2 linked regions of the Homo sapiens genome follow. The protein of the gene in region 1 interacts with the protein of each later gene in a pairwise test. Each region holds a gene or a part of one and is shown on either strand. Other genes may lie near its edges.

Region 1 (3,826 bases):
CGACGGGAGCGACCGAGAGGATCACCGGAACGAATTCCACTCCCCCATTGGACTCACCAGACCTTCGCCGGACGAAAGGGAAAGTCCCTCAGTCAAGCGCATGCGACTTTCTGAAGGATGGGCAACATGATCAGATTATTACTTACTAGTTTTTTTTTTTTTCTTGCAGTGTGTGTGTGTGCTATACCTTAATGGGGAAGGGGGGTCGATATGCATTATATGTGCCGTGTGTGGAAAAAAAAAAAGTCAGGTACTCTGTTTTGTAAAAGTACTTTTAAATTGCCTCAGTGATACAGTATAAAGATAAACAGAAATGCTGAGATAAGCTTAGCACTTGAGTTGTACAACAGAACACTTGTACAAAATAGATTTTAAGGCTAACTTCTTTTCACTGTTGTGCTCCTTTGCAAAATGTATGTTACAATAGATAGTGTCATGTTGCAGGTTCAACGTTATTTACATGTAAATAGACAAAAGGAAACATTTGCCAAAAGCGGCAGATCTTTACTGAAAGAGAGAGCAGCTGTTATGCAACATATAGAAAAATGTATAGATGCTTGGACAGACCCGGTAATGGGTGGCCATTGGTAAATGTTAGGAACACACCAGGTCACCTGACATCCCAAGAATGCTCACAAACCTGCAGGCATATCATTGGCGTATGGCACTCATTAAAAAGGATCAGAGACCATTAAAAGAGGACCATACCTATTAAAAAAAAATGTGGAGTTGGAGGGCTAACATATTTAATTAAATAAATAAATAAATCTGGGTCTGCATCTCTTATTAAATAAAAATATAAAAATATGTACATTACATTTTGCTTATTTTCATATAAAAGGTAAGACAGAGTTTGCAAAGCATTTGTGGCTTTTTGTAGTTTACTTAAGCCAAAATGTGTTTTTTTCCCCTTGATAGCTTCGCTAATATTTTAAACAGTCCTGTAAAAAACCAAAAAGGACTTTTTGTATAGAAAGCACTACCCTAAGCCATGAAGAACTCCATGCTTTGCTAACCAAGATAACTGTTTTCTCTTTGTAGAAGTTTTGTTTTTGAAATGTGTATTTCTAATTATATAAAATATTAAGAATCTTTTAAAAAAATCTGTGAAATTAACATGCTTGTGTATAGCTTTCTAATATATATAATATTATGGTAATAGCAGAAGTTTTGTTATCTTAATAGCGGGAGGGGGGTATATTTGTGCAGTTGCACATTTGAGTAACTATTTTCTTTCTGTTTTCTTTTACTCTGCTTACATTTTATAAGTTTAAGGTCAGCTGTCAAAAGGATAACCTGTGGGGTTAGAACATATCACATTGCAACACCCTAAATTGTTTTTAATACATTAGCAATCTATTGGGTCAACTGACATCCATTGTATATACTAGTTTCTTTCATGCTATTTTTATTTTGTTTTTTGCATTTTTATCAAATGCAGGGCCCCTTTCTGATCTCACCATTTCACCATGCATCTTGGAATTCAGTAAGTGCATATCCTAACTTGCCCATATTCTAAATCATCTGGTTGGTTTTCAGCCTAGAATTTGATACGCTTTTTAGAAATATGCCCAGAATAGAAAAGCTATGTTGGGGCACATGTCCTGCAAATATGGCCCTAGAAACAAGTGATATGGAATTTACTTGGTGAATAAGTTATAAATTCCCACAGAAGAAAAATGTGAAAGACTGGGTGCTAGACAAGAAGGAAGCAGGTAAAGGGATAGTTGCTTTGTCATCCGTTTTTAATTATTTTAACTGACCCTTGACAATCTTGTCAGCAATATAGGACTGTTGAACAATCCCGGTGTGTCAGGACCCCCAAATGTCACTTCTGCATAAAGCATGTATGTCATCTATTTTTTCTTCAATAAAGAGATTTAATAGCCATTTCAAGAAATCCCATAAAGAACCTCTCTATGTCCCTTTTTTTAATTTAAAAAAAATGACTCTTGTCTAATATTCGTCTATAAGGGATTAATTTTCAGACCCTTTAATAAGTGAGTGCCATAAGAAAGTCAATATATATTGTTTAAAAGATATTTCAGTCTAGGAAAGATTTTCCTTCTCTTGGAATGTGAAGATCTGTCGATTCATCTCCAATCATATGCATTGACATACACAGCAAAGAAGATATAGGCAGTAATATCAACACTGCTATATCATGTGTAGGACATTTCTTATCCATTTTTTCTCTTTTACTTGCATAGTTGCTATGTGTTTCTCATTGTAAAAGGCTGCCGCTGGGTGGCAGAAGCCAAGAGACCTTATTAACTAGGCTATATTTTTCTTAACTTGATCTGAAATCCACAATTAGACCACAATGCACCTTTGGTTGTATCCATAAAGGATGCTAGCCTGCCTTGTACTAATGTTTTATATATTAAAAAAAAAAAATCTATCAACCATTTCATATATATCCCACTACTCAAGGTATCCATGGAACATGAAAGAATAACATTTATGCAGAGGAAAAACAAAAACATCCCTGAAAATATACACACTCATACACACACACGCACAGGGGAATAAAATAAGAAAATCATTTTCCTCACCATAGACTTGATCCCATCCTTACAACCCATCCTTCTAACTTGATGTGTATAAAATATGCAAACATTTCACAAATGTTCTTTGTCATTTCAAAATACTTTAGTATATCAATATCAGTAGATACCAGTGGGTGGGAAAGGGTCATTACATGAAAATATGAAGAAATAGCCATATTAGTTTTTTAACCTGCAATTTGCCTCAGCAACAAAGAAAAAGTGAATTTTTAATGCTGAAGATAAAGTAAGCTAAAGTACCAGCAGAAGCCTTGGCTATTTATAGCAGTTCTGACAATAGTTTTATAAGAACATGAAGAGAACAGAATCACTTGAAAATGGATGCCAGTCATCTCTTGTTCCCACTACTGAATTCTTATAAAGTGGTGGCAAGATAGGGAAGGGATAATCTGAGAATTTTTAAAAGATGATTTAATGAGAAGAAGCACAATTTTGATTTTGATGAGTCACTTTCTGTAAACAATCTTGGTCTATCTTTACCCTTATACCTTATCTGTAATTTACCATTTATTGTATTTGCAAAGCTAGTATGGTTTTTAATCACAGTAAATCCTTTGTATTCCAGACTTTAGGGCAGAGCCCTGAGGGAGTATTATTTTACATAACCCGTCCTAGAGTAACATTTTAGGCAACATTCTTCATTGCAAGTAAAAGATCCATAAGTGGCATTTTACACGGCTGCGAGTATTGTTATATCTAATCCTATTTTAAAAGATTTTTGGTAATATGAAGCTTGAATACTGGTAACAGTGATGCAATATACGCAAGCTGCACAACCTGTATATTGTATGCATTGCTGCGTGGAGGCTGTTTATTTCAACCTTTTTAAAAATTGTGTTTTTTAGTAAAATGGCTTATTTTTTCCCAAAGGTGGAATTTAGCATTTTGTAATGATGAATATAAAAATACCTGTCATCCCCAGATCATTTAAAAGTTAACTAAAGTGAGAATGAAAAAACAAAATTCCAAGACACTTTTTAAAAGAATGTCTGCCCTCACACACTTTTATGGATTTGTTTTTCTTACATACCCATCTTTTAACTTAGAGATAGCATTTTTTGCCCTCTTTATTTTGTTGTTTGTTTCTCCAGAGAGTAAACGCTTTGTAGTTCTTTCTTTAAAAAACATTTTTTTTAAAGAAGAAGAAGCCACTTGAACCCTCAATAAAGGCTGTTGCCTAAGCATGGCATACTTCATCTGTTCTCATTTGTGCCATCTGCCGTGATGTCGTCACTTTTATGGCGTTAATTTCCTGCCAC
Region 2 (3,826 bases), on another chromosome or scaffold:
GAAGTGACATATGTATCAAGGCTCTAGAGAGAACTCTGGTACGAATCTCCTTACAGTGGACTTGGTGAGCAAGTCCACTTTATGGATTAACTCAACCTGGATCATATCCTCTCTCTCAGCAAAAATTAAATCACCAAGACCAGCAATATAGCTTACTTCCTTATAGTTGCCAAACAGCCTCCCGATTCAGAACCATTTTCCACTTTTTGTAAAACAAAGTAATGAAGAGTGCCAGCTGAATCCCACTTGTCTGTGTCTAAATCCTGCCTACACCACCATCTCTGGTACCTACTTTCAAAGATATAATCCTGCCCCCTACCCAGCATCATAGAACAATCTAGAGCCTTGTTTCGAATAGTCACACTCCTTCCTCCAGGAACAGTCACCAGCCCCTGCACTTAAACTTCCAGAGGATCTTGACTGACATATTCCTGAAGAGTTATGTGTCAAAGGAACTGTGGCACCCTTGAACAAAACTTCAACATCCTTAGGGGACCCCACTCAGTAACAGACTGAATAGTGAATTTTTTTAAAAAAGAGAGAACATTCCTTCATCACGATTATAAAACCATTTCTCCCATACCAAATTATGATTCTTGCCATTTTAATTTTCAGAGGTGGGGTTAGCATACAATGAGATATACCTGTATCTTGGGATCTGGCCCCACCACCAGGACCAGACCAGTTGTTGGGTATAAGGGGGCTGGAGGGATTCATTTGTGGCTGTTGCTGGGGTATTATTGAGGCCTCTTAACTTGCTAACCTCTGGATTCTCCCCATGCTGACATTTGATCTTTTTTTTTTTTTTTTTTTTTTTTGAGACAGAATCTTGCTCTGTCGCCAGGCTGGAGTGCAGTGGCGTGATCTTGGCTCACTGCAACCTCTGCCTCCTGGGTTCAAGTGATTCTCCTGCCTCAGCCTCCCAAGTAGCTGGGACTACAGGCACGCGCCACCACGCCCAGCTAATTTTTGTATTTTTGGTAGAGATGGGGTTTCACCATGTTGGCCAGGATGGTCTCGATCTCTTGATCTCGTGATCCACCCACCTTGGCCTCCGAAAGTCCTGGGATTACAGGCGTGAGCCACCGTGCCTGGCCTTGTTCATTCTTTCTAAACACTGCTCCACACAGATCACTCCACCCCTGCACAGAAACCTTCAATAGCTCCCCATTGTCTATGGAATAAAGTTCAAGGCCCTCCACCTGGCCTTCAAAGCCTTCCACAATCTGCCTCATGGCTTTCTTTTCCTCTAGGAACTCACACTAACCCTTTAGGTCTAGATCACGAGTCCACCCATAGGCTGGCACCTTCAGTGAAGATTTGCTGTTGCATTGAGTTTGACTGATCCCAAGTCCTCAATATGCAGATCAAGAGATCTAAAGTTCTACTCAGATAATTAGAGGTCACTTGGCTGTGAATCATGGCACTTGAGAACTGAAAGGTTGTCGCCTTTGCCTAGTCCAATACCATCAATTTGAAAAGAAAGACTCTGAGGAACAGAGAAGTAGGGTACTTGCTTCTGGTCACAGACTCAAACTCAGACTATGGTCAGTGGCTGAACTGACACTAAGAACCCAAAGGCCAAAGGGTTTCTGGAGTACAGAAGAAATCAGTCTTTGGTTTTCTCAGGCTTTCTCAGGCTTCAAGCACCTACCCATGCAGAACATGAATCCTCTTTTTAGAGAGCTTTAGAAAGTCTGGTAGCCCTTTCCCCACAGAACCAGACAAGACACTGAGCAGCCTACAGGGTGCTCTCTGCCAGTGTACCCTAGGACCCAGGTGGTCTAAGGCCTGCAGAAGAGAGAGCAGAGGAGCTGGGTGAGGGAGCTGTGGCAGTGGTAGAAGAGGAGGTGGTTGTGATTCTGTACTTTGCAGGCCCAAATGTGGACTGCAGACTCAGTCTGTAATAGGGTGGAGGTGAGCCAATGAAGTGTCTGTTTTTGCAGCGTGTGTGGTAATAAGAGCCAAACCTTGTAGGCTTAGCCTCACTGCCTCTGTTATTCAGGCTGGACAAGCACAAGCCCCATGGCAGTGACAGGTGAGGTTGTTAAAGAGGACATCTAGACATGCACAGAATCTCCCCAGACCAGTGACAGAATCTCAGGTTTGGAAGGGACCTTGACAGTCATTAAGCCCCAATTCTGACCAAAGCTTCAGTCCTCTTAACAATGTCCCTATTCATGCCTTTGTTGAATGGCCACAGTTACAAGACAGGAAGCTCCACTGCCATTGCAACCATTGCAACGTGCTTTCTGCCTGTGTGGGTCCTCTCATCTACTGGCACCTGCTGGGTATCCCCATGGGTAAGGTCCTGAATGCTACATCTTTTTAAACCTCTTCTCCATCAAAACCTACTTGACCTGCGTCTCATCAGGGTACCATTTCCTGTGGTAGCTCTTCTCCAAAAGTAGCTCCAACAAGCCATGCCTTTTGACACTCATGGCTTCGTGTAGTTTCCTCCCACAATGAGCCAGGGCTGGCCTGTAACATGCTCTAACCAACAAGATGGGGCAGAAGTGATGCTCTGCCAATCTGGGGACAAAGCCTTCAGAAGGCCTGGCAGCTTCCACTTTAGTGCTTCTGGGAGCCCTAAACTGCCACGTAAGATGTCTGGCTACCCTAGAGACACCATATGGAGAGGGAGAGTCTCTGAGTCTCCATAGAGTGAGAGAACAGTCCTGTTGTCCCAGCATGCCAACTGAGTCCAGGGTTCCAGCCACCTGCCACAAGGTCCCAGACGTGTGTGAGCTATCCTGATCACCCCAGCCTAGTCTGGCCCCCAGATGACTGCAGCCCAGCTGACATCACATGGAGTACAAGACCCACCCACTGAACCCACAGAACCCTGGGAGATAATCATCAAAGCCCTATGTTATAGGTGGTTTGTTAGACAGCAATAGATAACTACAGTAGTTACTATGAGCACTTTGGCACAGACTAGTTCCTCATTGGTTTGGGTGGTGTCATTTGGCAGAGATGCTTGACTCTTGGGTGATGAAACCTCCTAGAGACAGTGTCCTAACCCAAAGGTGTCCCCTAGTAGTGGGACACCAGGCACCATGCAGGGCCAGCAGGAGATATTTCTGAGTACTGGATCCTCTCAATGCCCCAATCTCATCTCACAGGCTACATACTTAAATTTTTTAAGGACATCCATTTTTCCTGCATCACAAGGGCCATGAGCTATCTCCCTTATACCCGTAGACAAAGGGGAGGCAGATTCCCACCCAGTGGGGGCAAGAAGGAAGTAAACACAATTAAGGATACCATTTTTGAGACTCAGGTTCTCACGAATCTCCTCATGGTCGCAGGGATGAGTGAAGTCAAAGATACTATGTCCTGTTAGCTCCACCTGTTTCAAAAACAAGGTTAGGCATCATTATTCCTAACAGTGAAGTAAAAGACTCCAAGAGTAAGCTGAGCCACCTTCCAGATTTGGAGGCAGGGAGGAGACTGAATTGGGTTTTCTCATAATCCCAGTCCAGTGTCAGGTCCACAGACAGAAAGATGTAATCGGGGACTACTGATGATGACAGAGACTTGGTCTGTTAATGAGTCAGTAGAGAGCTGTCTACCAGGATGGACATGAGCAAAGCCAAACCCAATGCTTGGGGGTGGGAGCGTGGCCTGAGGCGTGTGGCCTGAGGTCAGCGAGGGTCACCGTGGGCATTTGCAGGGAGAGGTCAAGTGGGATTGTGGCTAGCACCTTCCACTCATTTCTACCCCCAAATGGAAACATTTCTTCTTTTGAAAGAGATAGAGGAGGGTGTCACCTGTGTAAGTCCCATGAACTTGCTGATGTTTTCTGACAGAAAGATCATGTCGC

What was found.
Region 2: the proteins of MEF2C (region 1) and EPAS1 interact in a two-hybrid assay, tested with the Homo sapiens proteins (one large-scale study listed by BioGRID and IntAct).

Annotation. Positions count from the first base shown.
Region 1 is NC_000005.10:88,718,908-88,722,733, reverse strand, and holds part of MEF2C (myocyte-specific enhancer factor 2C), read left to right. Parts: coding exon 1-130; 3' UTR 131-3,826. UniProt on the Homo sapiens protein: Transcription activator which binds specifically to the MEF2 element present in the regulatory regions of many muscle-specific genes. Controls cardiac morphogenesis and myogenesis, and is also involved in vascular development.
Region 2 is NC_000002.12:46,356,250-46,360,075, reverse strand, and holds part of EPAS1 (endothelial PAS domain-containing protein 1), read right to left. Parts: coding exon 3,774-3,826; intron 3,353-3,773; coding exon 3,268-3,352; intron 1-3,267.